Homo sapiens: one gene and its partners. The gene in region 5 interacts genetically with the main gene of each other region. Each region holds a gene or a part of one and is shown on either strand. Other genes may lie near its edges.

What was found.
Region 1: changes in EGFR (region 5) and RCC1L together harm fitness more than expected from each alone (negative genetic interaction), as found in Homo sapiens cells (one large-scale study listed by BioGRID).
Region 2: changes in EGFR (region 5) and INTS1 together harm fitness more than expected from each alone (negative genetic interaction), as found in Homo sapiens cells (one large-scale study listed by BioGRID).
Region 3: changes in EGFR (region 5) and FBL together harm fitness more than expected from each alone (negative genetic interaction), as found in Homo sapiens cells (one large-scale study listed by BioGRID).
Region 4: changes in EGFR (region 5) and XPO5 together harm fitness more than expected from each alone (negative genetic interaction), as found in Homo sapiens cells (one large-scale study listed by BioGRID).
Region 6: changes in EGFR (region 5) and DCAF7 together harm fitness more than expected from each alone (negative genetic interaction), as found in Homo sapiens cells (one large-scale study listed by BioGRID).
Region 7: changes in EGFR (region 5) and UQCRC2 together harm fitness more than expected from each alone (negative genetic interaction), as found in Homo sapiens cells (one large-scale study listed by BioGRID).

Annotation. Positions count from the first base shown.
Region 1 is NC_000007.14:75,052,875-75,057,113, reverse strand, and holds part of RCC1L (RCC1-like G exchanging factor-like protein), read left to right. Parts: intron 1-389; coding exon of another isoform or gene 390-409; exon of another isoform or gene 410-601; intron 602-1,039; coding exon 1,040-1,213; intron 1,214-4,239. UniProt on the Homo sapiens protein: Guanine nucleotide exchange factor (GEF) for mitochondrial dynamin-related GTPase OPA1. Activates OPA1, by exchanging bound GDP for free GTP, and drives OPA1 and MFN1-dependent mitochondrial fusion. Plays an essential role in mitochondrial ribosome biogenesis.
Region 2 is NC_000007.14:1,473,159-1,477,397, reverse strand, and holds part of INTS1 (integrator complex subunit 1), read left to right. Parts: intron 1-479; coding exon 480-604; intron 605-740; coding exon 741-828; intron 829-942; coding exon 943-1,169; intron 1,170-1,326; coding exon 1,327-1,450; intron 1,451-2,559; coding exon 2,560-2,693; intron 2,694-3,037; coding exon 3,038-3,230; intron 3,231-3,704; coding exon 3,705-3,832; intron 3,833-4,213; coding exon 4,214-4,239. UniProt on the Homo sapiens protein: Component of the integrator complex, a multiprotein complex that terminates RNA polymerase II (Pol II) transcription in the promoter-proximal region of genes.
Region 3 is NC_000019.10:39,836,041-39,840,279, forward strand, and holds part of FBL (rRNA 2'-O-methyltransferase fibrillarin), read right to left. Parts: coding exon 4,193-4,239; intron 3,166-4,192; coding exon 2,995-3,165; intron 1,804-2,994; coding exon 1,671-1,803; intron 629-1,670; coding exon 516-628; intron 1-515.
Region 4 is NC_000006.12:43,565,836-43,570,074, reverse strand, and holds part of XPO5 (exportin-5), read left to right. Parts: intron 1-1,337; coding exon 1,338-1,364; intron 1,365-2,720; coding exon 2,721-2,906; intron 2,907-4,239. UniProt on the Homo sapiens protein: Mediates the nuclear export of proteins bearing a double-stranded RNA binding domain (dsRBD) and double-stranded RNAs (cargos). XPO5 in the nucleus binds cooperatively to the RNA and to the GTPase Ran in its active GTP-bound form.
Region 5 is NC_000007.14:55,154,575-55,158,813, reverse strand, and holds part of EGFR (epidermal growth factor receptor isoform a precursor), read right to left. Parts: intron 2,985-4,239; coding exon 2,868-2,984; intron 2,282-2,867; coding exon 2,155-2,281; intron 2,056-2,154; coding exon 1,982-2,055; coding exon of another isoform or gene 1,971-1,981; exon of another isoform or gene 1,875-1,970; intron 1,152-1,874; coding exon 1,061-1,151; intron 1-1,060. UniProt on the Homo sapiens protein: Receptor tyrosine kinase binding ligands of the EGF family and activating several signaling cascades to convert extracellular cues into appropriate cellular responses.
Region 6 is NC_000017.11:63,588,153-63,592,036, reverse strand, and holds part of DCAF7 (DDB1- and CUL4-associated factor 7), read right to left. Parts: intron 3,038-3,884; coding exon 2,865-3,037; 3' UTR 1-2,864. UniProt on the Homo sapiens protein: Involved in craniofacial development. Acts upstream of the EDN1 pathway and is required for formation of the upper jaw equivalent, the palatoquadrate. The activity required for EDN1 pathway function differs between the first and second arches.
Region 7 is NC_000016.10:21,956,361-21,960,599, forward strand, and holds part of UQCRC2 (cytochrome b-c1 complex subunit 2, mitochondrial precursor), read left to right. Parts: intron 1-874; coding exon 875-958; intron 959-1,056; coding exon 1,057-1,206; exon of another isoform or gene 1,207-1,224; coding exon of another isoform or gene 1,225-1,257; intron 1,258-2,174; coding exon 2,175-2,239; intron 2,240-4,239. UniProt on the Homo sapiens protein: Component of the ubiquinol-cytochrome c oxidoreductase, a multisubunit transmembrane complex that is part of the mitochondrial electron transport chain which drives oxidative phosphorylation.

The DNA of each region.
Region 1 (4,239 bases), about 20 Mb from region 5:
GTAATCCTAGTACTTGGAAGGCTAAGGTGGGAGGATTGCTTGGACCCAGGAGGCAGAGGTTGTAGTGAGCCGAGATTGCGCCACTGCACTCCAGCCTGGATGACTCTGTCTCAATAGAAAAAGAAAAAATGAAAAATTAGCTGGGCATGGTGGTGCACACCTGTAGTCCCAGCTACTCAGAAGGCTGAGGCAGAAAGGTCCCTTGAGCCCAGGAGTTCGAGCTGCAGTGAGCTATGATCATGCCACTGCACTGGGCAACACGGTGAGACCCTGTTTCAAAAAAGGAAGGGACTATGGCCATGGGAAGATGGCATTGGATTAGAAGATGGCATTACAGGGTGTGAATGAAGTTCTTAACAAAAAGCGAATAGTCTGCGATTTATCTGTAGATACATGGCCACAGAGCTGAGTCATCCTAGAGCAAACCTCTGGAGTGGAGAGCGAACTACTTCATTCCCCTCCCTTAGCCTGGGCCAGAGAGACTCCAGCTCTGCCTTCTCCAGCCAAAAAATCAAAGGCAGATGGGAGAACAGCCTTCAGCTTTGGATAACGATGAAATATCTGGCACCACTGATGAATATTAAACTTTCTATAACCAAAACATCATTTCTAAGAGTTTTAAGAATCTGGCCAGACATTGTTGATGTGTTTGGCCTTCTGATCAGTGTGAAACACAGAGCTGTCATTAGGGGGAGAAAACATCCTCCAATTCTCTGGTATTCGTATGGGTTTTCTGGATGATTTATACGCTCGTCCCTTCCAGGTTACTAACCCTCAAGATGTGGGAAGTTTGTGTTCTGAGCCAGGAGAGCTGGCGAGACAGACTCCCCCAGCAAGAATTTAAGCAGGGGAGAGAGAATTATTATTCTAAATCTCTGTCTGCATGTTCTTGCCAAGCAAGGAGGAAAAAAACAAAACAAAAAAAAAACAAAAAAAAACCGTGTGGATGTCATAAACCTTGGTGGTGTAGTTTGAGTTTCTGGTGAGGGAGGTTCTTACTTGGATGGACTTACTGACCCTTGTTTTTACTGTAATGTAGGAGAAGGACATGTTTTTGTCTGGGGCTATGGAATTCTTGGGAAAGGTCCAAACCTAGTGGAAAGTGCCGTCCCTGAAATGATTCCACCCACTCTCTTTGGCTTGACGGAGTTCAACCCAGAAATCCAGGTTTCCCGCATCCGATGTGGACTCAGCCACTTTGCTGCACTGACCAGTAAGTTACCAAGCCCGGTGGCCCTGGTGTGAGCCCAGCAGAGGTTCTCTGTCTCCAGTTCAACCCCAAACTGCGGGCAGCTCTCAGGTTCCACCCATCCAACAGAACGGCGCCTTTGTACTGATAACTCAAGCAAGGGCTAAGCCAGAAGTTGTTTGCCTCGAGGTTGTATAATGTCTTGTTTTCCCCCCCTGGAGTTTTAATTTTGGTTCGTTTGGTTTGTGGGTAGGCTAACGTGAACGTGCATTTTCTCAAGAGAGCACCCGTCGGTGGTAGGAAGGGGCATTGCTAGTACGTCGGGTGCTGGAGGAAACCAGCAGAGGCTTGGCGGATCCATGGGTGGGTGATTAGGAAGTGAATGTGTGGGGCTTAATCCCATTCCCTGGCCGAGCCCAGACCCTGATCTGACCCAGGATATGGGATGGCAAAAGGCCGATTTGTCAGACTGTCCCGTGGTTTCACGGAGGTAAATCTACCGATTTCTCCAAAGTGCCGGGGTAGAGAATGATGAAAGGGGAGAGCAAAATGGAGGTTTTTCCCAAAGGCCTGCCAGATTACAAAGCCACAGAATATCCGCTTACCCTGCAGGGTAAGGGTAAGGAATGTGTCCTTTTCTTGGTTACATCTCTTACTCCACCACAGTTACCGTGGGTTCAATTTGCTGCTCTTTAGTTGACTCGAATAGTAAAACTGTCCTGAATTAATTTCATTCTGTGATTCTCAAGTAAATTAGTTATTTCCTTGCAATTAAAAGAATCTTTTCATCTCATGGCAAGTAATTGTTTTCTTTTTAAACATCCAGGCCGGGACAGTCAGTTGGTGTCATCTTTGGTTGAGTTCTCTGGCCTCATTCCCACGTGGGGCCTGTCCCAGATGCTCACCCTCTGTACCAGGGTCCTAACTGCTATTCACTTATTGTCTGAATTCCAGGCTCCAGAGGCCGTCAAACAGGCAGGCCTGGGTTGTTATGGCTGCCAGCTGGAGTTTTATCTGGCTCTAGGCTGAAGCACTGAAGTGGCAGTGGTCATGACTAAGCCAGAGAATTCCTGGCCACTGCCCAGCCAGAGTGGCCACTTGCATTTGCAGCTGAGTGTAGGTCTCATGAATTCTTTTTTTTTGAGTTGGAGTCTCACTCTTGTTGCCCAGGCTGGAGTGCAATGGCGCGATCTTGGCTCACTGCAACCTCCGCCTCCCGAGTTCAAACGATTCTCCTGCCTCAGCCTCCCAAGTAGCTGGGATTACAGGCACACACCACCACGCCCGGCTAATTCAGTGTCATGAATTCTTAAAGCTATTTTGATTTGATAAATAAGAGTCGTATGGACTAATTTTGGGGGAAACAAATATCTACTTTCCAGAAAGTTCTTAAGGCCTCAACTATGGGCAGAGACACATGTTTAGAAATCTGTGTGAAGCATTTGACTAGAGCAGAGGCTTTTCTATTTGCCCTCATGCCATGTAGCCATTTCAGGTCACAGCGAAATGAAATTCCTTTCTGGATTTCTCCCCGAGACTTAACAGGCCTCCTTCTAAGGGTGAGTTACTGCCTGTTGGTAGACAGAGCCTAGCTGTCTTCCTGCCTGTGTGCCTGGCATTTGCAGATAGCCATCTGGGAATTAGAGTTGGTTGGTTTATCCTGTGGTCTGCTAGCATTTTGGGGAGCCAGGCCGAATTGTTCTATTAAACACCTAAGGGCTAGCTGGGTGCAGTGGCTCATGCTTGTAATCCCAGCACTTTGGGAGGCCAAGATGAGAGGATCCCTCAAAGCCCAGGAGTTCGAGACTAGCCTAGGCAACATAGTGAGATCCCTTTTCTACAAAAAATACAGAAATTAGCTGGGTGTGGTGGTGTGCGCCTGTAGTCCCAGCTACTCTGGAGGCTGAGGTGGAAGGACTGCTTGAGTTTGAGAGTTCAAGGCTGCAGTGAGCTATGTTTGTGCCACTGCGTCGCAGCCTGGGCAGCAGAGTGAGACCCTGTCTCAAAAGCAAACAAACACACACACACAAAAACTATCTAAGGTCTGAGTGTGGAGAACAAGGGGCATGCTTAGATCAGGGGCCTAAGACAGCTTGTAATTATTCCGTACTTCATCAGCCCCAGGTCTTGTAGTCCTGGCTTTTCCATGTCACTTCCTCTGCCTCCCATGACCCAAGCCTTTTGCCCAACAGCTGATGGTGACATGGGCCCAGGAGTGCCCCAGCTGGTGCAGACAGAGTCCCACCTGAAGGCCGGGCTAGGAGAGGCCATCTCCTGGGTTGACCTCTTAAACAGCATCTTGTACTTTTTCTTCATGACAGTTTTTACAGTTTGTAAACATATATTAAAATCATCTGTCTGTTCCGTCTCTGGCCAGTCCCCAGCTCCTGGAACACAGACCTAGACCCAGCACAAGCAGGCACTTGGTCATTAGATGCCCTGTGGCTGAATGCTCCCAAGATATGGACAATCAATCCAGGAATGACAAATTGTCTTACTTTTCACTGTCAAATCAGGAAGCCCAGGGTGTCGCCAGGATTTGTGGAAGGCAGAGTTTGGTGGCACACGATTGTGGGCGGGGCACAAGGGGTGAGCAGAGTGGGCCGTGTGCATCAGTGACCTCCAGCCCCGTGCACCACCCCCAGACCCCAGCTCCATGCACCACCCCCAGACCTGTCCACCACCCCCAGACCCCAACTCCATGCACTACCCCCAGCCCTGTCCACCACCCCCAGACCCCAGCTCCATGCACCACCCCCAGCCCTGTCCACCACCCCCAGACCCCAGCTCCATGCACCACCCCCAGCCCCGTGCACCACCCCCAGACCCCAGCTCCATGCATCACCCCCAGCCCCGTGCACTGCCCCCTGCCCCATCTTCATTTGAGTGCTCATCTCCCACGTGGGTGGATGCAGCAGAAGTCCTGGCCGTGGATGTGTTTTCGATATGGGGACAGCATCTCAGACCCTTACTTTTGCCTTCAAAGAAAGCATGAACGCCTGGTAAAAGCTGAACAGTGGGCTCTGTAGGTATCTGGTTCTAGAAAGCCT
Region 2 (4,239 bases), about 54 Mb from region 5:
AGGGTAGGTCCCCCAATGGCCCTAGCAGAACCCAGGCCAGGGTCACAGTCACCTGTGGACCAGCACTGTGACCAGCCAGATGTGGGGATGGGGTGGGTGGATGGGGTGGGGTCGGCCCTGCCAAACCCTGTAGATCATGTAGGGGCCTCCATCTTCCCAAAGGGAATGGGGCTGTGGCCAGGAGAAGGGAGGGCAGGTGCTGGGCTCCCCACATCCTCCAGGGAGGGACGGCCTCACCAGAGAGGCTGCATGGAGCCCCGGGCACCTCCGCTGTGTGGCATGGCTCCCGTGGGAAGGGGCGGGGAGATGCAGCGCAGCCACCAGGAGCGGCCCTCCAGCACCATGACGGGGCCGGTGTTACCGGCAGCACCCCAAGCCTCGGCTCTCTGAGTGGCTCATTGGGGAAGCTGTCAGCTGACTTCAGCAGAGCCTGCCATTGGCCCAGGTGAGGCCATCCGGGCTTCTTCCTCCCTCCCCAGGGCAAAGGTCAGGCCCAGGTGCCCTCGTTCCGTCCCTACCTCCTGACCCTCTTCACGCATCAGTCCAGCTGGCCCACACTGCACCAGTGCATCCGAGTCCTGCTGGGCAAGAGCCGGGAACAGAGGTGGGCGCCTCCCTGTCCCCAACCTGGGCTGCGCGCATACTGGCCTTCACCAGAAATCTCCCAGCGCCGGCTCTGACTGGTATCTCCCATGCTGAGACGAGACACCTCGTGCTCTGGAACCTTTGCCTCCCCACAGGTTCGACCCCTCTGCCTCTCTGGACTTCCTCTGGGCCTGCATCCATGTTCCTCGCATCTGGCAGGGGCGGGACCAGCGCACCCCGCAGGCAGGTCTTGGGAGGGTGGCCCATCCGGGAGAGGGGGTGGCCCATCCGGGAGAGGGGGTGGCCCATCCGGGAGAGGCGGTGGTGCTCCGGGGCTGATGCAGGCACCCGTTACAGAAGCGGCGGGAGGAGCTGGTGCTGCGGGTCCAGGGCCCGGAGCTCATCAGCCTGGTGGAGCTGATCCTGGCCGAGGCGGAGACGCGGAGCCAGGACGGGGACACAGCCGCCTGCAGCCTCATCCAGGCCCGGCTGCCCCTGCTGCTCAGCTGCTGCTGTGGGGACGATGAGAGTGTCAGGAAGGTGACGGAGCACCTGTCAGGCTGCATCCAGCAGTGGGGAGACAGGTGCTCAGGCCCCCCGGCCCCAGATGCTGCCTGGGAGTGAGCCATGGAGGGGGTCGAGGCCCAGCCCTGGGTGGGTTCCCATCACGCCTGGTCCCGTCCACCCACCCCTGTCACTGGGGCCCCGTCCGCCTGGTGAGCCCTGCTCCACCTCTTCCAGCGTGCTGGGCAGGCGCTGCCGAGACCTTCTCCTGCAGCTCTACCTACAGCGGCCGGAGCTGCGGGTGCCCGTGCCTGAGGTCCTACTGCACAGCGAAGGGGCTGCCAGCAGCAGCGTCTGCAAGGTGAGGGCGCAACTCTGCCGCTCCCCGCCGCCGTCCCAGGTGCCCTGGCCGGGCAGGGAGGGAGGGCGGAGGCCACAGTGTACATGGCCATCGCCGGCTACCCCTCTTGCCCCTTCCCAGTCCGCGCCGCCCTGTGGCCCTGTGGGTTTGTCTGCGTTGAGTTTTATACCGAGGGAGCTTGCGGGTGCTCTGCTCGCACAGTCTGGAGAGTCGTGGTGTTGTGGGCACTGGGTGGCCTGCCATTGTGTGGATCGGCCGTTGGTTTATCTGTTCACCTGCTGGTGGACGTGGGGTCACGTTCAGTTTGGGGCAGTGACAGCTGCTGGGGACTCGTGCCCGGGTCTTGGCGGACGGCTGCGTCTGCTCCTCTCCAGTGACCCTGGTGGGGAGAGCTGGGCCTCCCGTACCCGCTTCCCCACCGCAGGCCGGAACCTGCAGCCTGTCTTCTGCTGGTACCACAGAGGGCAGCTGACTTTCTCTAATCATTTCTGCTTGTGGTTTTTTTCACTTATATGTCATTTTATTTGTTGAAATCACACTTGATGTGCAGTTTTGTGGAGGGTTTTTGAGGCAGGGTGTCTGTTGCCAAGGCTGGAGTGCAGCGGTACCATCATAGCTCACTGCAGCCTCAACCCCCTGTGCTCAAGTGAGCCTCCCACCTCAGCCTCCCGAGTAGCTGGGATCACAGGCACGTGCCACCACACCCAGTTACTCTTTTTGTATTTTTGAAAATAGAGAGGGCTATTTTCATTGCCCAGGCTAGTCTTGAACTCCTGGGCTCTGGTGATCTTCTGCCGCGGCCTCACAGAGTGCTGGGATGGCAGGCGTGAGCCACTGCGCCTGCTTGGCCGATGTGTAGTTTTGGCTTGTTTCCCGCTCATTGTATCATTTGGTGTGGAGCTTTGCTTTTATTCTGTATGGGGTTTTCCCAGAGGCTGGCTGTGGCCTGCCTGCCCTCCCGAGGTGCTCATGGAAGCCGTAAGGAGCCAGTTCCTCTGCTCATGGCGTGCCACGCGGTGGATCACGGCCACAGCTGGCGGCCAGGCTGAGTGTGGGTGGGCAAGTGAGGGGAGCCAGCGGCCCCGGCCTCAGAGCGCCCCTCCCTGCAGCTGGACGGACTCATCCACCGCTTCATCACGCTCCTTGCGGACACCAGCGACTCCCGGGCGTTGGAGAACCGAGGGGCGGATGCCAGCATGGCCTGCCGGAAGCTGGCGGTGGCGCACCCGCTGCTGCTGCTCAGGTGCTGTCCCAGAAGCCCTGCCCTCGCCAGACACTGGTTTAACCAGGGGGGTCTGCGGCTCTCCAGCCTGGGCAACAAGAGCAAAACTCCAAAAACAACAAAAAAAAGCATGTTCCCATGGGCTGAGCTTGACCGGGGGAAGTCAGGACTGAGCTGGGCCTCAGGTGGGAGGAGCTGGGTGGGCCTCAGAGAGGGGCGATCTCATCCCCACCTCCTTAGGGCAGGAGGGTGGTTGGGGGGCAGCACGGGGTCTGGCTCCCGGGGCAGGCAGTGGGGCCTTCCTGGGGACGTGCGCCAGGTGAGCCCGCCGGCCGGGGCTGACTGGGCCCTCACCGCGCCCGCAGGCACCTGCCCATGATCGCGGCGCTCCTGCACGGCCGCACCCACCTCAACTTCCAGGAGTTCCGGCAGCAGAACCACCTGAGCTGCTTCCTGCACGTGCTGGGCCTGCTGGAGCTGCTGCAGCCGCACGTGTTCCGCAGCGAGCACCAGGGGGCGCTGTGGGACTGCCTTCTGTCCTTCATCCGCCTGCTGCTGGTGTGTGCTCCCGCCGCCCGCCCTCGCGCTCCCTTCCACTCCCTCTGCTCTGGCCCAGGCCTGCCTCACCCACTCGCGGAGGGACTGGGAGGACCTCTGCAGCCAGGGCCCAGGCCAGGCCACCTGCCCTGGGGACCAGCTCCCACCCTGGGAAGCCCCTGCCTGCTGCCCCTCACGTGCCTGGGGGGCCCACGTCCTTCAGAAGCCCAGCCCAGACCCTCCGTGCTGTTCTCTGCGTGTCGCTTGTGCTACCTCGAGCCCCTCATCCATCTGGGCACATGCCCCAGACAGCCATGTCCACACCCTGACAGGCCATGCCGGCCACCCTTGGGCCTGTGACGCCCCAGTGGTTGGCAGAGGGGGCTCGTTGGCTGTGGGGTCCATGCCCTGAGGCTCTGGGAGCAGATGGGAGCACAGGCTCTGTTTTGGCCCTGCGGGGCAGAGCAGCTCGAGGGTGCCGCTTTTGCTTTGCAGAATTACAGGAAGTCCTCCCGCCATCTGGCTGCCTTCATCAACAAGTTTGTGCAGTTCATCCATAAGTACATTACCTACAATGCCCCAGCAGCCATCTCCTTCCTGCAGAAGCACGCCGACCCGCTCCAGTGAGTGCCCACGGGCTGCAGGGAAGCCTCGGGCCTCCGGCGAGGGTCCAGCGGGGTCTGGAGGGTGTTCCTGGGAAGGCCGTGTCGTGTCAGATATGCTGCTCCTGAGGCCGGGGAGGGCTGCTGAGCGTGGTGCTCATCCCAGGGCGCAGAGGCCGCCCCACCCTGTGCCGAAGCCGTCTGAACCCACCCCTGCAGCTCTCTGGCTCTCTGTCCCGTTCCACGCACATGTGGCTTCCCCGCCCGGCCCTCCCTCTGAGCGTCCTGGCCTCTCCTGCATGCCTGTGTCCACACGCTCCCATGCCACCCTAGTTTGACCCCTGACCCAGCCTTCCTCCTGCCAGCGTCTTCCTCCCAGGTGAAAGCATCTTCTCTCCCCAGCGACCTGTCCTTCGACAACAGTGACC
Region 3 (4,239 bases), on a different chromosome or scaffold from region 5:
TTATTTCTACTTCCTCTTCTTTAATAATAGTAATAATGCAGTTGAGAATAATAAAACAAATGTAGCAAAAGGCTAACAAATGGTGAACCTTGTGAAGGGTGCATGGGAGAGTTCTCCATTATTTCCAAATAAAAATGCTGTGAAAGATGCACCTAGCTTTTATCTAGTATCTATTCTATGCCAGGATCTTTTCTAAACACTTCATATTATATTGACTAATTTGATCCTGTCATCTACCCTGAAAAAGACTAGACAATATTTCTATTTCATAAGTGAGGAAACTGAGGCATATAGGTTAAGTAACTTGCTCAGTCACACAGCAGGCTGGGATTAAACTCAGATGGTCAGACTCAATTTTGCACTTGACCGCTGCACTCTCCTGCCTCTTTAAATCCAAAGCTATAGTTTTGCAGACTTGGCCCCTCTGTTTTGGGTGGCTATTTGACAGATACAGATAGAGAAGATACCTCCCTAGAACACTGCCACCCCATCTTAGACTCTTCCAAACCCCGCACCTTAATGGAAATCACAAAGTGTCCTCCATTACGCAGGAAGGTGTGGGCATTCAGGGCCACAATCCGGGTCTGGTCTGGCTGGGCCACATCAGCAAAGATCACATCCACCATTGCTAAGGAGAAAGGAGCAGCAGTTAAAAGTTGGAGTCACAGGGATCACCCCAGATCCTCCCATGGGGCCTATGCCCATCACCAGCAGGTTCCTGGGAGATTCTCCCTGCCTCCAGTTTCACTCCCCACCTCCACTGGTCCCCCTCCCTCCAGTGTCCCAAGATGAGTCCAAAACCCACAGTCACATCATTCATCCACTCTTCTTGTAAACCATGGTTGCCACCTACTCTGTGGCCAGCCCTGGGCCGGGCGTGGGGGACATAGAGACGAGTCAGACCCGGACCCTGCCCTCGAGACGCTCCCAGGTCTGGTGGGGAGACAGACACGTCATCAAAAAGACAAGTAAGAGTGAGTGAGCACTTATAGGCAAGAGTGTCCGCAGGACTGTGAAATGAAAACAAGTTGCAGAACAAAGGGGATGGTATGAGTGCATGGGAAAAATAAAACACAGAAAGAAAAAGGAGCAGAATGAAAAATAATGTTTTTAAGCCAGTGTGACTTTTCAAAAAATGAAAAGGTGGTATAATGAAAACTGATTATTTAAAACCTGGGAAAAGCAGACATCAAATTGTTCTCATCAGTTACTTCTGGCGGTGGTTTATAAGGCTTTTCAACTTTTATATTATATCTTTGAATGTTTTTTTAAACAAAGTAATTAATATTCACAGTGGGCCCCTCCAGATCAAGCCATGCTTAGTTTTCTGGGATATGCTCTCACCAGACAATGATTAGGACCCCCAAAAGGAGGCTTTTTATGGAGGGGTAGTGTAATAAATACAAGAGGCAGGAAGTACAGGAGACCTAGGAGATGGGGAGGAGACTGAAGGAGAAGAGGTTGGCCCTCCAAGGGTGGCTTCCAAGACTCTGAAGCCAAGCTGCCACCTCCACAACCTCACCTAGCTCCCCTTACCCCTTTCTATTCCTGCAGACTCAAGAGGTCTGCTCATCCACTCCAACTCCATCCGAATCAGAGATCCACTGGCTTCTTCCAGAAGCCTGCGGTGGCCTGTCCTACCCCACCGGGGCCACCCCCAGACCCCTCACCGATGAGCATGCGGTATTTGTGTGGGTGTCGAGCATCCTCGATCACAGGAATGATGTTGGTCCTCTTCTTGGCCAAGTTAATGAGGTCACGGCCAGAGCGGTGGGAGAACTCGACTGCATAGACTAGACCATCCTAAAATAAATTAAAAATTAATGAACAGTGATGCTAGTTCTCATGCATGGAGTGCCTACTTTAGGCCCATACACTATACACAGCATCTCTTCCAACCCCCAAATCAAAACCCTACCATCTAATGACTATTGCTATCATGTCCATTTTTCACATGAATAAACTGAGGTCCAGACATAAAGTCACTGGCCAAGAGTTATTCAGCAAGTAGCAAAAGTACCCAATCCCATCTGCCTGAGAGCCCAGGTTCCCAACAGAGGCTTAAAACCAGGAAGCCAAGGCACAGAGATGATGTAACAATGGGCCAACCACTGCTCTAAGCACCTTTCAGAAATTAACTCATTTAATCTTCACAAGTCTATGTTCCAGACAGGTAAACTGAGGCTTGGATGGGTTAGGTAACTTGCCTGATTAAAGCCTGAGGTTTTTTTTTTTTTTTTTTTTGAGTCTCACTCTGTTGCCCAGGATGGAGTGCAGTTGTGCGATCTCAGCTTAGTGCAACGTCCGCCTCCTGGGTTCAAGCAATTCTCCTGTCTCAGCCTCCCAAGTAGGTGGGACTACAGGCACACGTCACCACACCCAGCTAATTTTTGTATTTTTAGTAGAGATGGGGTTTTACCATATTGGTCAGGCTGGTCTCGAACTCCTGACCTCAGGTGATCCACCTGCCTCGGCCTCCGAAAGTGTTGAGATTAAAGGCATGAGCCACCTCGTCTGGCCAAAGCCTGAGGTTTTAAGGCACTACACTTAACAGCTTATAAACACATAAAGTAACAAAGGGTAACAGAGTGGGACACGTGGGTGCCAGGGGCCCTCTAAATGGGAAGCCTATACAGGCTCAGAAACCATGAAGATCTCCTGGTTCTTTCTAAAGAAACCAGAAGAGCAGGTTTTAGCAGCATAAAATTTTAAAGAGGCCCATCAAATCAAATAGTCTGGTATCTATACTCCCCGTTGTCTCTCTAAGGTTGGTCACCCCACACCCACGTCTCTTCCCTTGAGGCCAAGAACCCAGGAGTGAGGTTGAATGACATTATCTGGTTCAAGCCACTCCTTTTACTCACAGGCACAGTGACAGAAAAGGGCCTGGCCCTAAGTCACACAGCGCAGGCAAGCAGTCAAACCCTGATATTCCAGGTTGGCAGAAGGGAGGCAGCCTTTACCTCCTGCCTGACTCTCCATCTACTCACTCACCGGACCAACGATGTCAGAGACATGGGAGACCGTGGTGCCCGAGGCAGCCCCGAGGTAGAGAACCTTAGCCCCCGGTTTGATGTGGATCTGGTCCACACCACCCAGGATTGCTGCTGCTAGCTTGGAGCGGAAGGGGTTCCAGGCTCGGTACTCAATTTTGTCATCTCCTTCCTAGATGAGAGATGGGGACAGAAGTCAGTGCTAGGCTCTTCTGCAGGACCTCACTGCCTTTAACCCTAGGAGCCTTGAAAGGAACTGGGCTGTCCTATCACTGCACAAGAACTCAACATGAGTAAAGAGCAGTGACCATGCACATGCAGTCGCTGCCCTCTCATGGAGGTGACTGACCCAAAGGGCAGCAAAAGAGAATAAACACAAACAGTAACAGTAAAACCAGCACTTGTTCAACAAACATGCACTGTGCCAGCACCTACTGTGTGCCAGACCCTGCTCTAGGCGCTGGGGATACAAAACAAGGATCCCTGCCCAGAAGGTGTAAGTATTCACCGAACTAACTAAATACAACATGGCATATGAGATGGTGACAGGTGTTAAGGAGAGAAGACAAAGCCAGGAGAGAAGATACGGAGTTTGGGAAGCAGGGCAAGGAGCAGGTGAAAATGGGAAAAGGGGCCAGGGAGGGGCTGAAAGGCAGATTCCAAATCAGACCTGAAGGAGGCAAGGGGCCATTCAAGTTATCTGAGGAAGGACATTCCCACGAGAGGGAGAGCGATTAGGAAGGCCCCAAGGCAGGCACACCCTGGCCTCAAAGAAAATGACACAGGATAACAGGACAGGGGAGGGCGGTGAGGGATGCCTTGACCCGCAGAGTGGTGTGACGCAGCCTGGAGAAGCAGATGATAAGGACGCAGCCTCCCACAGAGCTGGGAGTGGGAACAGCAAGGCCAGGGTGGCTGGAGGACACTTGGTCAGAGAGTTAGTGAAGGAGACAAAGCCAGGGGGCAGGGAGGGGGAACTGGAATGCACAGGGTCTTGGAGGCCTGAGTGAAGACTCAGGAGTCTAACTGGAAGGCCGTGGGGAGTCACAGAAGGCGGATGAGGGAGCAGACAGTGTGGTTTACATATTATGACAATCCTCCAGCTGTCACGTGCAGGACACATGGTGAGGGCAGACACAGACTACTGGCTACACCCTCAGCTGCGACCCTGGTGGCTTGGACAGGGGCCCAGTTCTCACCGAAATCGAGACTCTCTTCTCTCCATAAACTGATTCCCCAGGGACCA
Region 4 (4,239 bases), on a different chromosome or scaffold from region 5:
AGTGCTGGGATTATAGGTGTGAGCCACGGCACCTGGCCTTTTTTAAAAAAAAAAAAAAAAAAAAAAAAAAAGATAGGGATCTCGGCTTACTGCAGCCTCCACCTCCTGGGATTACAGGCATGTGCCACCACACCTGGCTAATTTTTGTATTTTTAGTAGAGATGGAGTTTCGCTGTGTTAGCAAGGCTAGTCTCAAACTCCTGACCTCAGGTGGTCTACCCACCTTGCTCTCCCAAAGTGCTGAGATTATAGGTGTGAGCCACCGAGCCCAGCCCTAGGTGTTATTCTTAATTTTATTTTCAGAAGTTCTTTAGGAAAATACTAATTTTTTTTTTTTTTTTGGAGAGGGAGTCTCACTCTGTCACCCATGCTGGAGTGCAGTGGCACAATCTCGGCTCACTGCAACCTCCGCCTCCTGGGTTCAAGCGATTCTCCTGCCTCAGCCTCCCGGGTAGCTGAGATTACCGGTGCCTGCCACCATGCCCGTCTAATTTTTGTATTTTAGTAGAGATGGTGTTTCACCATGTTGGTCAGGCTGGTCTTGAACTCCTGACCTCAAATAATCCGCCTGCCTTGGTCTTCCAAAGTGCTGGGATGGTAGGCGTGAGCCACCGCGCCTGGCCTAATTTTGTATGCTTGTAAGTTAACATTATGTGCCTTTGTATGGATTTGAAATATAAGGATAAAAATCAACCATATTTGTATATTCACTGAATAGCCACTATTCTGATGTATTTAACATCATATATATATGTATTTTTTTTTGTTGTTTTTTTTTTTTTGAGACGGAGTTTCACTTTTGTTGCCCAGGCTGGAGTGCAGTAGTGCAATCTTGGTTCACTGCAACCTCTGCCTCCCGGGTTCGAGTGATTCTTCTGCCTCAGCTTCCCAAGTAGCTGGGATTACAGGCATGCGCCAGCACACCGGCTAATTTTTGTAATTTTAGTAGAGATGGGGTTTCACCATGTTGGCCAGACTGGTCTCAAACTCCTGACCTCAGGTGATCCACCTGCCTTGGCCTCCCAGACTGCTGGGATTACAGGCGTGAGCCACCACGCCTGGCCAACATCCAGTATTTTTGAGTACATGGTTTTCATATACTTAGGCTATACATACATGTTCATGAATTGTATTCATTTAATTATGCTTCTGACTTTACTTGTTCTCCCTAGGGGAATATCAGTTATGCGTGCTTAGTAAAGTTGTGTTATTTTCCAAGATGAAAAATTGCATATATTTAAGAATCATTATTCAAGGGCATTGATTTGTGGGGGGTAGAAAGTTATTATGTGGCCTTTTGCTCATTAAAAACACTGGATCTTTATACTTCCTTTCAGAAGACAGATACTTCTCAGGAGTCAAAGGTAAGAGCTCTTTATAAAGTTTGAAGGAGACCTTTGAACCTTTCAGGTGAGGGGATACGTGCCCCTAGTGGATGGTGACCTCAGCCTTGCTTGTGTTGTATTGTTTTGGAGACAGGTCTTACTGTTGCCCAGGCTGGAGTGCAGTTGTGTGGTCTCAGCTCACTGCAGCCATGACCTCCCCAGCTCAAGTGATCCTCTCACCTCAACTTCATGAGTAGCTGGGAATATAGGTGCGCACCACCATGCCCAGCTAATACTTTCTATAGAAACAGGGTCTCAGTGTGTTGCCTAGGCCGGTGTCAAACCCCTGGCTTCAAGTGATCCTCCAGCCTCGACCTCCTGAAGTGACTGTGGGCCACTGCATCTGTCGTTTGTTTTTTTTGTTTGTTTTTGTTTTTGTTTTTGAGACGGAGTCTCGCTCACTTGCCCAGGCTGGAGTGCAGTGGCGCGATCTCGGCTCACTGCAAGCTCTGCCTCCTGGGTTCACGCCATTCTCCTGCCTGGCCTCCCGAGTAGCTGGGACTACAGGTGCCCGCCACCACACCCAGCTAATTTTTTGTATTTTTAGTAGAGACGGGGTTTCACCATGTTAGCCAGGATAGTCTCAATCTCCTGACCTCATCATCCGCCCTCCTCAGCTTCCCAAAGTGCTGGGATTACAGGTGTGAGCCACCATGCCCAGCCTGTCCTTTGTTCTGTTTTTGATCACTGAGCTATGGTTGAAGGGAAGTAAAAAAAAAAAACAAAAACAGACTTACTTTTTTTTTTTTTTTTTGACACAGGGTCTTACTTTGTCACCCAGGCTAGAGTACAGTGACGCAAACGTGGCTCACTGCAGCTTCAGCCTCCAGGCTTCAAGTGAGCCTTACCTCAACCTCATGAGTAGCTGGGACTATAGATGCACACCATCATGCCTGGCTAATTTTTGTATTTTTTTGGTTAGGGTATTTTTTTTATTTTATTTTATTTTTTGTTTTTTTGGTAGACACTAGTTTTGCCATGTTGCCCAGGCTGTTGTTTTAACTCCTGGGCTCAGTTGATTCACCCACCTTGGCCTCCCAAAGTGCTGGTATTGCAGGTGTGTGCCACTGCACCCAGCCTTGGGAAGTAAAATGATAAGATTTGGGGTTTTGTGAAAAAGATAAAATGGCCACACATGCCAGTATGGTCTTGTTGTTGGATGTTGAGAATGTCATTGTTTGAGAAGTGATTGTGTTCCCTACCTGTGACTGTTACATGAGTATATTCTTAAAAAATAATTTTCTTAGAATTAGAAAATGGGAGTTCAGTTATAACCACTGATTCCTTACCTGTTACCGAGGACTTCATGGTCCAAAGTTACTTCTTTTCTGGTAGGCGCAAGCAAACTGTCGAGTAGGAGTTGCAGCACTGAATACTCTAGCAGGCTATATTGACTGGGTGTCTATGAGTCACATCACTGCTGAAAACTGTAAACTCCTGGAGATACTGTGTTTGCTGTTGAATGAACAGGAACTTCAGTTGGGAGCCGCTGAGTGTCTTCTCATTGCAGTCAGCAGAAAAGTAAGTTACCACTTCAAACTGACTTATCCTCAGTCTCTGAAGTAGGCTGTGTATGTGTTTAATTGCATGTTGTGGCAGAAAGTCATTTAAAGGTTTGGGTTTTTTTCCTTGGGGCCAACTTACTGCCTGCTTCCAACCCCCTTGGACAGGAGTTTGCCAATATTCAAGGGATCCTTTGGCAGAATGTGGAGATTTATCAGGCTGCATGGTTCTTGAAATAGCCATGATACTTGGCAATTTACAGTTAACAGATAAAAGTAAATGTTTAAGTTTAAAGCTCACTTAATGAATGTCAAGGAATCTTGGATGGTGGCTACAGTAGGTTTATATCTGTCTTTTTTTTTTTTTTTTTTTTTTAATTGAAACAGTCTTGCTCTGTCACCCAGGCTGGAGTGCAGTGGCGTGATGTTGGCTCACTGCAACGTCCGCCTTCCGGGTTCAAGCGATTCTCCTGCCTCAGCTTCCCGAGTAGCTAGGACTATAGGCACACGCCACCATGCCCGACTGATTTTTGTATTTTTTAGTAGAGATGAGGTTTTGCCATGTTAGCCAGGCTCTTCTCGAACTCCTGAGCTCAAGTGATCTGCCCTCCTCAGCCTCCTAAAGTGCTGGGATTACAGGCGTGAGCCACTGCGCCAAGCCTATGTCTGTCTTGGCTAACCAATGGAACTGTGACTCTTTTCTCCATAGGAATATTATCTACAAATGTAATTTACTTTGCTGTCATATCAGCATTATTGCCCAACACATTTATTTATTTATTTATTTATTTTTTGAGATGGAGTCTCGTTCTGTTGTCTAGGCTGGAGTGCAGTGGCGCAATCTCAGCTCAGTGCAACCTCTGCCTCCCGGGTTCAAGCAATTCTCCTGCCTCAGCCTCCTGAGTATCTGGGATTACAGGCGTGTGCCACCACACCCAGCTAATTTTTGTATTTTTTAGTAGAGATGGGGTTTCACTATGTTGGCCAGGCTGGTCTCGAACTTTTGACCTCAAGTGATCCACCTGCTTTGACCTCCCAAAGTGCTAGGATTACAGGTGTGAGCCACGGCACCTGGCCTAATTTTTGTATTTTTAGTAGAGACAGGGTTTCACCATGTTGACCAGGCTGGTCTCGAACTCCTGATCTCAGTTGTTCCGCCTGCCTCGTCCTCCCAAAGTGCTGGGATTACAGGCATGAGCCACCGCACTCGGCCTGCCGAACACATTTAAAAATGTAAGTTTATGCTTTTTCACTAAACTGATAGTTTTGAGAAAAAATATGTAGTTTATCCAGATTTGGTTTTAAAGAGTTGGGCTTCTTTCTAGTGTTTCACTAAACCCTGGGGTATATAA
Region 5 (4,239 bases):
GGAGGCCAGGACACCAGGGCAGAGCCAGGTTTTCCTTGCAGGGCAGGTCTGGGGCCTCAGTGAGTCACACCCTGGAACGTGTGGCCACCCTGTCTCAGTAGGAGCTGGAATCACCAGACTTCTCATTAAATGTGAAAAGTAAGTAACCCTTATCTTGTTTAAATCCCTACAACTAAGCCAACTGGCTCATACCAGCCATCCAAGAAAATTGCTCTAAATCTCTTATTTTTATAAGAATCTTGGTCAAAGAAAGCATTCCAGAGAATTCAGAGCAAAAAGGCCTTTCTGGGAAGCAACGGTAGCCACATATTTAGTATCAGAGATTCAGAGCCAAGGGAGTTTATGGGAGGCAATGCATATTTCACGCACTCTTATTCTCTTTAATGTTGCACAGTATTATCTAGTGCTTTAAGAGTCAAGTAGGGGCAGCAGTTCTCATAACGAGGCTGCTTCCAAGGCGGGTTTCACTAAGAGATTCCCATCTCCTCCTCCACACCACTAAACTGATGATTACCATTACCATATTAAAGATGCTTGTGTGTGAGCACCTGCATGTCTATTCCACTGTCAAAGCTGAAAAAGTGGAAATTCTTGAAGAGTGGTGCTAAAAAGTCTCTCTGGTCCCTGTGATAAGATGTGCATAACCTCAATTGCATCCTGAGAAAACACCAGCTGAACAGACATGGTTAGACAGTGTGCAAAGTACCTGACCCACACGTTTTGTAAGTGTCAAGGCCGTGAAAGACAAGGAAAGACACAGGAGCTAATATAGGTTAGAAATGGACTGAAAAGATTTGACAACTAAGTGCAATGTGGGATCTGGAGTGGACACAGAAGCAGAAGCACTGGCGAGCGCTGAGAAGTCTGTGGTTTAGCGGACAGCCTGTGCCAGTGGTCGTGCAGTCTTGCTCCCTGTGCCTGCTCATGTGAGATAGCATTTGGGAATGCCGGCGAGAGATGCAGGAGCTCTGTGCCCTATCTTAGCAACTCTCCTGTTAAGCCTAATTTCCAACTAAAAAGGCAAATGTAATCTACCAGGCTTTGGCTGTGGTCAACTTACTGTTGCTTGGTCCTGCCGCGTATGATTTCTAGGTTCTCAAAGGCATGGAGGTCCGTCCTGTTTTCAGGCCAAGCCTGAATCAGCAAAAACCCTGTAAGGCAGATGAAAGACTTCAGACACACACCACGTAGGAGTTTCTTTTTTGTATGAGACATTACTCTAGACTCTCAGGGACTCTGTATTATATGAACAGTAAGTGGGAAAATTGGATTTGCTTTCTTTTTCATTATCATCTTCTCTGAGTGTACATGCGCAGGGCGGACGCAGGCCGAGCCACAGTTCACAGCTGCCTCCCGCCTTCCGCTGCGATTCCGCATGTCTCCCGCCGCCCCCCTGGCTGTGGCCCTGAGACCCCTGCTGCGCCGCGTATCTGATTACCCCGAAGAGGCTCCTGCTGCGATTATCTGCCAATTGTGGATCTGGTATCACATACAAGGAGCTTTACAAATTTTCCTTATTTGATTCCAACCTTAAAACAGTCTTGTTATTTTGGTCTAATCTTCCCATTTTAGAGAGGAAGGAAGCGGAGCTCAGGCGGCAGTCATAGACCCGAGGCTTGCCCGTGGCCCCACAAGGCTCTGGCGTCCAGTTTCAAAAGCCTGAGGCCCAGGCTGCCTGTCACCTACCCCTGTCCCCTCCCTCTACCCTCAGGGGTTATGGGCCACCAAGGCAGCTGGCTGGGGCCGGGCGGGAGGGAGAAAGCGTGTTTACACCGCAGTGAATGACCCAAGCCTGGACTTAACGTGTCCCCTTTTGCCTGCAGGAGAAACTGCACTTTTGAAAAATATCAAAACATCAGCCATTAACGGTAAAATTTCAGAAGAAATGTTTTTATTCCAAGGGAACAGGAAATATGTCGAAAAGTTCTCTCTCTAAAACACTGATTTCCCATTTATATTCATGTGATAATTCAGCTCAAACCTGTGATTTCCTTTACGGTTTTCAGAATATCCAGTTCCTGTGGATCCAGAGGAGGAGTATGTGTGAAGGAGTCACTGAAACAAACAACAGGGTGATTATTGATCACCAATCTCTACCAGTTAAAAAGGCAGATTTTGTTTTTCTTTATACAAGCAACTGAACCTGTGACTCACCCCCTAAATGCCACCGGCAGGATGTGGAGATCGCCACTGATGGAGGTGCAGTTTTTGAAGTGTTTAATATTCGTAGCATTTATGGAGAGTGAGTCTTTAAATTCACCAATACCTATTCCGTTACACACTGCAGAGATAAGAGAGACGTGTATTCCGTTCACATTTGTTGGATTAAGAATAGCTAGGGATCCACAGGCAGAGGGAAGCAGGAAGGAATTCCGGTCACCGGAACCGCCACTGCCACATCATCCTTCATTCACTCAACAAACACTGAAGGGGCTGGGGAGAGTGCAGGCGGGAAGGGGGGACACCAGGACCTATAGTACACTTTGGGGCTACGGCGGTGTAGGAGATGCCATCCCTGTCACCTCACACTGACCTTGCGTTCTCCTCATTATTTCCCATGGGCCGCTTGGAGCTGCACTGCTTCCAGCTCTGCCTTCCCTGGATTCTCCCCAGGGCTGGGCACCTGGCAGCTGCTGAGCGGGGCTGGCTCTGTGACTGTTCTCATCAGAGCCCCCCACCCCGTCACAACCTTCAGTGCCTTCCCATTGCCTAACCTAGCTTTACAGCTTTATCTTCTGTTTTAAAGAAACGATATGTATAGTTGTTTTTTAATGAGAAGAGGAAGATGTGTTCCTTTGGAGGTGGCATGAGAGCCCAGCCTCAGCAGCCGAGAACAAGCCTCGTCCGCACACCGGCGGGCTTCCTACCTTTGCGGCAAGGCCCTTCGCACTTCTTACACTTGCGGACGCCGTCTTCCTCCATCTCATAGCTGTCGGCCCCACAGGCTCGGACGCACGAGCCGTGATCTGTCACCACATAATTACCTGGGGAAGAGAGCATGAAAGGAAGGTGATGACGGTGGCACCAGGTGCTCGGGCCTCACACAGGCGGTCCAGGTCCTCTTGAGGGGTGATGGAAAGGCTCCATCCTCCTTTGGCTTTATTTACTTTAAGGACAAAGAATGAAAGGTTGCAAATAGAGAAGGAATCCCGTTCAAGAGTTTAATAACATTCTAGGCCGCAATGTGGACAATACAGGTGTTTCATCATGGCAGGAAACACTGGGTCCCTTGAGGGGCCAGCTGTTTTGCGTCCCAGCAGGCACCTCAGCCCTCTCCTCCACCTGCTCTCACCTTTAAAGTAATTCATTTGTATTAATAGCAGACTTCTGCGTTATTTTTAGGAGCTCTATGTCTTCCTTTTTTGTTTGTCTGAGATGGAGTCTTGCTCTGTCACCCAGGCTGGAGTGCAGTGGTGTGATCTCAGCTCACTGCAACCTCCGCCTCCTGGGTTAAAGCAATTCTCCTGCCTCAGCCTCCTGAGCGGCTGTGATTACAGGCGTGCGCCACCACGCCCGGCTAATTTTTGTATTTTTAGTAGAGACGAGGTTTCACCCTGTTGGCCAGGCTGGTCCCAAACTCCTGACCTCAGACAATCCAGCCCCTTCAGTCTCCCAAAGTGCTGGGATTAAAGGCATGAGCCAATGAGCCACTGTGCCTGGCCTGTTCCTGTTTTAAGTTCCCCAAGAAGATCCTCAAAAATATTTATAGGACATTGATGATTCTTCTGTGAACCATCTGCTCTTGGTATCTCAGGCTCGAAGTGTTTTCCTATGGATTTTAAAGCTCTGTTAAGCCCTATCTCAAAGATATATCTGTGTCATCACTGTGGCACATTTTTCTTTAGCTTTGTTTGTCATTTACCTTATAATGGCTTATTATTTTGTGTTTTTTTTTTCCATACGGAATGTAAAATTTTTCATGTACACAAATCTGGCAGGGTAAAATCTCCCCCTCATAATTGTTCTTTCAATTTTTTTTCTCAGTTAATCTCCCCTTCTAGAGATCAAGAGTGGCTTCTAAAACTCTTTCATTAGACAAAGTTTTGCTTTCTCTGTCAGGAATTATTTTATGTCACAATTTCCCTAAACCCTGGAGCCACCAGTACAAATGTAAGTACAAACAAGCAAAACTCAAACCCAAACCATTAAAACAAAACAAAATAAAAACAAAAACAAAACCTCTGCAATACTCCTAAGAGGCATAACTTTCACTAGAATTTTAACCACTCAAGAAGGCAG
Region 6 (3,884 bases), on a different chromosome or scaffold from region 5:
CTGAGCATAAAAAATTCAGGTCCTTGAATGACGTGGACCCATTCTCCAGCTCTCTGGTGGTAGAGGCCTGAGGCCTAATTTATTCAGCACCTCCATCCTTCAGTCAGAACAGATGAGGACAATACAGGCAGCTGTGCCTCAGGCTGCCAGGAGCAAAAGGGCCATCACCAGCTGGGCCACAGCCTGGCGGAGCCTCCATGTGGGCTTCCTGCTAAAGTCCTAGTGGCTGCTCCTCCCGCAGTCAGGGAGAACAGATCCAGGGCCTCCCACCCAGTCTCGCTGGCTGTCAGTTTGAGAACCTCAACAAATTACAGAGTTGTTTTTGCAACTACAACAGATCGGTGCTTTCTGGAGCATGGATGGCTTACAGACTTTCTAAATCCTGAGACTGTAGAAATCCCCTCCTCAGTCATGGGTCGTCGGGCTGGTGGAGTAAAGGGAGGGTAAGAGAGCTGGGACTCAAAGACCAGCAACTCATCAACTGTGAGTATGTGTGTGCTTGCTTAGGGGGGTGGAGTCCCCCTGGGTCCCCGGTGGCATTCAGGGGAAGACTGTACTGCAGGACCTAAGGAAGGATGACAGGAGCTGGGCGTCCACAGGGCAAGGGAAATCTCAAAAGTTGTTGGTTTCCAGAGTAAATAGCTATCTTATGCAAATATGTTCTAATTATTATTTTTTTTTCAAGTTGTTGTTTCTGAGTTCCAGCTGACAAATTCCACCATACAGACCAGGCGTAGGTGCAGATCAGGAAAGGAATCTTAGAACTCAGTGGATGTAAGCCCTGCCCAGCAGACCAGCCCCTTCTACCACTGACTTCCATTTCAGACCCTTCTCCACAGGAAGGAACTGATGGCCTCCTAAACAAGCAGCCATCAGCTTGGCCTTGCTACCCTTGAGAGAAGGACCCAGTAACCATTATCAAACACAATGAAAAGCAGAGGAGGGTTCTGACCAAGAACTGCTCGCTTTGTATCTCCAAACGATGCAGTGCAAATCCAGTGGCAAATGCAGGAGAGGCAACCACAAGCACATGGCCAGCCAGAGTCCTAAAATCAGAACAACAAAGTAAAAGGGTAGAAGGGGAAATATGCTGGCTAAAAAAAGAGCCTTTTTCTTTGGGACAGGTCCCTGTATGGTAAAGCAAAGAGCTAGACTTTTGGCATATAATGACATCTACTTCTGAAAAGGAAGACTTAACCAAAAAAGCTTAAGGGCCCAGAAGAACAAAGTTACTGTTTTACTTCTCAAGCAGGTGAGAACCAAAGAGGACAAAACCATCATCCTTCAGGCCTGCTACTCTACTAATCTCAGATGAGCAATTCAGAGGGACTTAAAAACCTTCGGGTAGGAGCAGAGCGCAAGGAAACAGCCAACTTTCCCCCAAGAGCACATCCCAAACTGCCTGCCCCAAGGGCTCATCTAACGGTGGAATCACACATATGCCCCTCCATGGAACTCATTCACATAACAGAAAGACACCTGCGGCCTGCAAGTCAAAAGACAACTGCAGGCTACAAGTCCAATACTGCTCAGAACCTAAACTGGGGGAGAGAGGGGTTGACAGGTGTGGGTAGAGCTCTTAACTGGCTGACCCTGGGGGTCTATAATTCCTTTTCCTTCTTTTTTTTTCCTCCCTTTTCATTACCCACAGTATAATGCTTTTTAACTATCTATCCACTTGACAGCCCAGGATTGCCGCAGTCCATCAGTCCATCTCTCATGTAAGGTCTTGTTCAGGGTTGGAAGCACAGACAGGATGCCTCGGGAAGACTCTCTCACCTCAGAACACTCAATCCAAAGAATGCCCAATATACCACCAGGCACAGTAAACTCAAACAACAGAAGCACCGAAGTTCAACTCAGATATCATTCTTGCCTATCATTGAAAAGACACTAAGTGGAATGGCCTGGGGCTTATATTTGGATGGAAAAACAGACTCTGAAAGAATGTACTGGAAATATGCTTGAAGTTCAGCTTCATGAAACGATTCCCCTCAAGTCAGGTACCCTGAGAGCCTGTTTCTCTCAGCTCTACCATGCTGCCAGTGGGAACCAATGGGCTGGACAGTGGTGCTTCAGGGTAAACAGAGGCTTCCTATGTCTGTTTACAAGCCCAGAATGCCCTTGAGAGGAGCCAGGCTAAGAAAGGTGTGATGAGTCAGTGGACTTCAGAGCACCAAGGTGGTTTGGACTCCCGGTCAGGTATGTACTACACAGGCAGTGACTCAAGAAGGCAAACTGCTCATGGGGCCAGGGGCCCAGTACCAGCTCCAGGCACTGAGGGAAGAGAAGAAGGTGCAAAGAGGGAGGACTATAAGACAAAGAAATGAAGCAGGAGAGTAAAATTCTTTTCATAAAAAAATTAGCCTGATAGATAACAAATATACAAAGTTAAAATTTGTTAAACACACTGATACTAGGAGAAAAGACAAATTGGTATTTGTTCCCACGTAAGTGCTAACACGAACATGGACATGGACGAGACATGAACTGCTGCCTTGGGCAGCAAACAGAGACACCTGGGCAGAGGAATAGACACAGCCAGTGCGTGAACTGCTCCTCAACACAACGCCTGACAAACAAATATACACACATTTTTTAATTGAGGAACCAAAGGAGAAGAGGAAAGGAGAGAAAATCTTAAAACTCAGCCCTGGGCTGAGGAGGCGCCACACAGCACTGAGTCTGCCACAGAGGGCGATGGGGTGACTGGCCAGGAACTCCTAGAGCAGCTTCTGGTAACAGTGGGTGCAAAGCAATGAAAGACATACTGGCCACTGGAAACATGTTTCTTCTTACTTTGGGGGTGGGGCAGAGGCAGGAAATACAAAAGCCCCTGCCTCGTGGGCACAGCGCCACCAACACTACACTCTGAGTATCTCCAGGCAGTTGTTGTAGCAGATGGCGATCCAGTCGGGCTGAGTTGATGCCCACTGCACATTGTTGATCTCTCCTTCAGCTGTGTAGGCCAGGATAGGGTCCTCAATGGCTCGGGGCATTTGCTGGATGTCCCAGATGAGAGCCTGGTGGTCATCCGCTAGGGACAAAGAAAGCCAGCAAGCAAGGTCACAAGTGAGGCAATGCGGATGATGATCCCTGCATTTCAGGAGCAAGTCACAGTTTACAAAGCACCCCCGTGATGGCGGTTCTATTTTAAGCCCCCATTTTATCGATGAGGAAATCGAGATTCAGAAATGTTAAGGCACTTGTTCCAAATCACACAGCTATTCAGCCAAGTGAGTGGCAGAGCCAGAACTCAAATCTAGGCCCTGACTCCATCTCCCAGATGTCCCCAGGCTCTATCCACTGCACTAATGAGTCCTTCTCATCTGGGTCAGGTATCAGGAGTGGACAAGGGGATACCAAACATGTCATTTGCAGCCACTTAAAATACTTGAGTGGTTACAAAGATCATTCTCTGATCATTCAATATAATGAGAGCGTTTCTTCCCTGTTTGATGGACATTTATGCTTCAGTGAGGTGTTATATAGAAGACTGATAAAGTAGTGCTGATATGTGCTGTTAAAAAATTCTTTCCTGGCCAGGCATGGTGGCTCACACCTGTAATCCCAACACTTTGGAAGGCTGAGGCAGGCGGATCACCTGAGGTCAGGAGTTCAAGACCAGCCTGGACAACATGGTGAAACCCCATCTCTACTAAAAAAAAAAAAAAAATACAAATTAGCCAGGTGTGGTGGCACACACCTGTAATCCCAGCTACTTCGGTGGCTGAGGCAGGAGAATCGCTTTAACTCGGGAGGCAGAGGTTGCAGTGAGCCGAGATCATACCACCGCACTCCAGCATGGGTGACAGAGTGAGACTTCATCTCAAAAAAAAAAAAAAAATCCAAGAAAATAGCTATGGGAAACACCAGAAAGATGG
Region 7 (4,239 bases), on a different chromosome or scaffold from region 5:
GGGTGAAACGCCATCTCTACTAAAATACAAAAAATTAGCCAGGCGTGGCAGCATGTACCTGTAATCCCAGCTACTTGGGAGGCTGAGACAGGAGAATCGCTTGAATCCAGGAGGCAGACATTGCAATGACCCGAGATCGCACTGTTGCACTCCAGCGTGGGACACAGAGCACGACTCCAACTCAACAAAAAAGGTTGTGGATGGGGTGATCTGACACTTTTTCAAAAAATGCCAAAGCTTTAGAACTACACAGAACCATGAAACTTTTATAAGGTAACTGAAAGATAAGAAAATACAGTGATTCTTTACATCATTTAAAAAATAAGCATCAAGAACTCTATAAATCACTAATAAATAGAGGTTTAAGAATGGCTTGGGTAAACTGGTGGGTTAGTAAGTCCATAATAAGTTATGCAGCTAGGCGGGGTGCAGTGGCTCACGCCTGTAATTCCAACACTTTGGGAGACCAAGGTGGGCAGATCACTTAAGATCAGGAGTTCAAGACCAGCTTGGCCAACACAGTGAAACCCCATCTCTACTAAAAAATACAAAACAAAAACTAGCTGGACATGGTGGCACGCACCTGTAATTCCAGCTATTTGGGAGGCTAAGGCAGGAGAATGGCTTGAACCCAGGAGGTAGAGGTTGCAGTGAGCTGAGATTGCGCCACTGCACTCCAGCCTGAGCGACAGAGAGACACTCTGTCTCAAAAAAAAAAAAAAAATGTTATGCAGGTAAATCCTCCCATGGAGGTGGTTATTGCTCCTTCCACCCCCGAACACCCTCTGTCGCTTGGGTACCCTAAGATACCATGCTTTTATATAAAGCACTGTTCTTGTGAGAAATACGTGTAACCTGTGTTTTTTATGTTTAGAGATTTTATTCCCTCAAAGTTGCCCCCAAAGTTAAAGCCACAGCTGCGCCTGCAGGAGCACCGCCACAACCTCAGGACCTTGAGGTTAGTCCCACTAACTTGCTCGCTGGAAGCTATACATGCCTTACTCTCCTTGGTAATACGAAGACATTCATTATATCTCTACTTTATTTTAAATACAGTTTACCAAGTTACCAAATGGCTTGGTGATTGCTTCTTTGGAAAACTATTCTCCTGTATCAAGAATTGGTTTGTTCATTAAAGCAGGCAGTAGATATGAGGACTTCAGCAATTTAGGAACCACCCATTTGCTGCGTCTTACATCCAGTCTGGTGAGTATCTTCACTTCCTCAAGTGTTTGGAAATGCTGTGGTATCTTGGTCCTGTGAAAAAGAAAAACTAAGATCAATGTCTTTATATTTTGATTCCTTGACCTGCCATAACAAATTACCACGGACTGGGTAGCTTAAACCAAATAAGTTTATCCTGTTACAGTTCTAGAGGCTAGAAGTCCAAGTCAAGGTGTCTAAGCCAAGCCAAGATATCAGCAGGGCTGTGATCCCTCTAAAGGTTCTAGGAAGGCACAAATCCTCCCCTGCCTGTTCCTAGCTTCCAGCAGTTGCCCACAACCCTTCATGTTCCTTGACCTGCAACTGCATCACTGCAGTCTCTGCCTTTGTTGTCACATGGCCTTCCTTCTGTCTGTGTCCACATTTCCTCCTGATAAGGATACCAGTTACATTAGATTTAGTGCCCACTATAATTCAATATGATGTCATCTTAAGTACTTAAATCTGCAGAGACCTTATTACCAAATAAAGTAACATGCAAATATTCTGGCTGGACATAAATTTGGGGGGGAACACTGTTAAACCCAGTACTGTCCCCTAATGTAAAATGAGAAACCACAAGATATTTGCCACAGAGAAGCACTAAATTAGTATCCATATGAATGTTGATGTTAGAGCATAAGAAATCAGTAAACAAATTTTTAACAGGAAGTGCCGCAAATTGAAAGAAAATTAACTCTTTTTTTCCCATATACAAGTCTCTTTCAGAATAGACTAATGAATCCAGTAAGCTTGTATTTGACAGTGGAAATTTTACATGAATGTACTTAATGTAAAAATGTATACTTAAGCTTTTTGTTGAGCCTTGTTTTATAATTCTTAACTAAAAAGGATGCAGGAATTTAGTAAAATTCTTTTTAAATCTGCTCACAACAGATTTTGATATAGTGTGATGTTTGGCAAACTTGGCATTGAAAAGCTACAAAGATAATCATTCTTTCTTTTTCAAGACGACAAAAGGAGCTTCATCTTTCAAGATAACCCGTGGAATTGAAGCAGTTGGTGGCAAATTAAGGTTTGTTAAATAAGTAATAGAAAATAGTGAAAATGCCAGAAAATATTCAATTTTAAGGGAACTTTTCTCTGTTATCAAGGAGGTTGAGGATTTCTTAAGCAACATAAGAAGGAAAAGACTGATGAATTTGAGTATATCAAACTGTAAAACATCTTTATGTCTTAAAGTAAAAATTTAAGTAACTGTCTGGGAGTAGATATCTGCAATATATAGGCATACCTCAGAGATGTTGCAGGTTCTGTTCCAGACCACCACAATGAAGGGAATATTGCAGCAAAGCAAGTCATAGGAATTTTGTGGTTTCCCAGTGCATATAAAAGTTATGTTTACACTATACTGTGGTCTACTAAGTGTACAATGACATTTTGTCTTGGAAAAAAAGTACATAACCTTAATTTTAAAATATTTTATTGCTTTAAAAATGTTAACAGTTATCTGAATCTTCAGCAAGTCATAATCTTTGCTGGTGGAGGGTCTTGCCTCCACGTTAATGGCTGATGACTGATCAAGGTGGTGGTTGCTGAAGGTGGTGGTGACTGATAATTTCTTAAAATCAGACAACAGTGAAGTTTGCTGCATTGATTGACTCTTCCTTTTGTGAAAGACTTCTCTGTAGCATGAGATGTTGTTTTTAGCCGTTTACCCACAGAACTTCTTTCAAAATTAGTCAGTCATCTCAAACCTTACCACTTTTTTATCAACCAAGATTATGTAATATTCTTTTTTATCATTTCGACAGTGTTCACAGCATCTTCAACCAGGAGCAGATTCTATCTCAAGAAACCACTTTGTTTGCTCATCCATAAGAAGCATCTCCTCATCTGTTCAAGCTTTATCATAAGATTGCAGCCATTCAGTCACATCTTCAGGCCCCACTTCTAGTTCTCTTGCTACTCCCACCATAGTTGCAGTTTCTTCCCCCTCTGAAGTCTTGCCTCTCAGAGTCATCCATAAGGGTTGGAATTGGCTTCTTCCAAACTCACGTTAATGTTGATACTTTGACATCCTCCCATGAGTCACAAATGTTCTTAATGGTGTCTAGAATGGTGAATTCTTTCCAGAAAGTTTTTTAATTTACTTTGCCCAGATCCATCAGCGTCTTCACTATCTGTGGTAGCTGTAGCCTTACAAAATGTATTTCTTAAATAATAAGACTTGAAAATAAAAATTACTCCTTGATCCATGGGGTGCAGAAGGGATGTTCTATTAGCAGGCATGAAAACAGTGTCAATCTCCTTGTACATCTGCATCAGAGCTCTTGGCATTGTTGCAGTAATAATTTGAAAGGAATCTTTTTTCTGAGCAATGGGCTTAAAATATTCAGTCAACCATGCTATAAACAGATGTACTATCATCCAGGCTTTTTTGTTCATTTACAGAGCATAGGCAGAGTAGATTTAGCATAATTCCTAAGGGCTCTAGGATTTTGAGAATGGTAAATGACCTCATCCTAAAGTCACCAGCTGCATTAGTCCCCAACAAGAGTCAGCTTGTCGTTTGAAGCTTTGACGCCAGGCATTGACTTCTCTAGCTACGAATGTCCTGGACGGCATCTTCCAATGTAAGGCTGTTTTGTCAGCATTGAAAATCTGTGGTTTAGTGTAGCCACCTTCATCGATGATCTTATGTAGATCTTCTGGATAACGTGCTGCAGCTTCTATATTAGCATTTGCTGCTTCACTGTGTACTATTATATTAAGAAGATGGCTTCTTTCCTTAAAGCTCATGAACTAACCACGGCTAGCTTCAGACTTTTCTTCTGCATCTCACCTCTCTCAGCCTTCATATAATTGAAGAGAGTTAGGGCATTGCTCTGGATTAAGCTTTGACTTAAGGGAATACAGTTTGATCTAATCCAGACCAGTAAAACTCTGTATTATCAGCAATAAGTCTGTCTTGCTTTCATATCATTTATGTGTTCAGTGGAGTAGCACTATTAGTTTTCTTCAAGAACTGCACTGGTGCAAGAGGCCTAGCTTTTGACCTGTATCCGTTTTTAA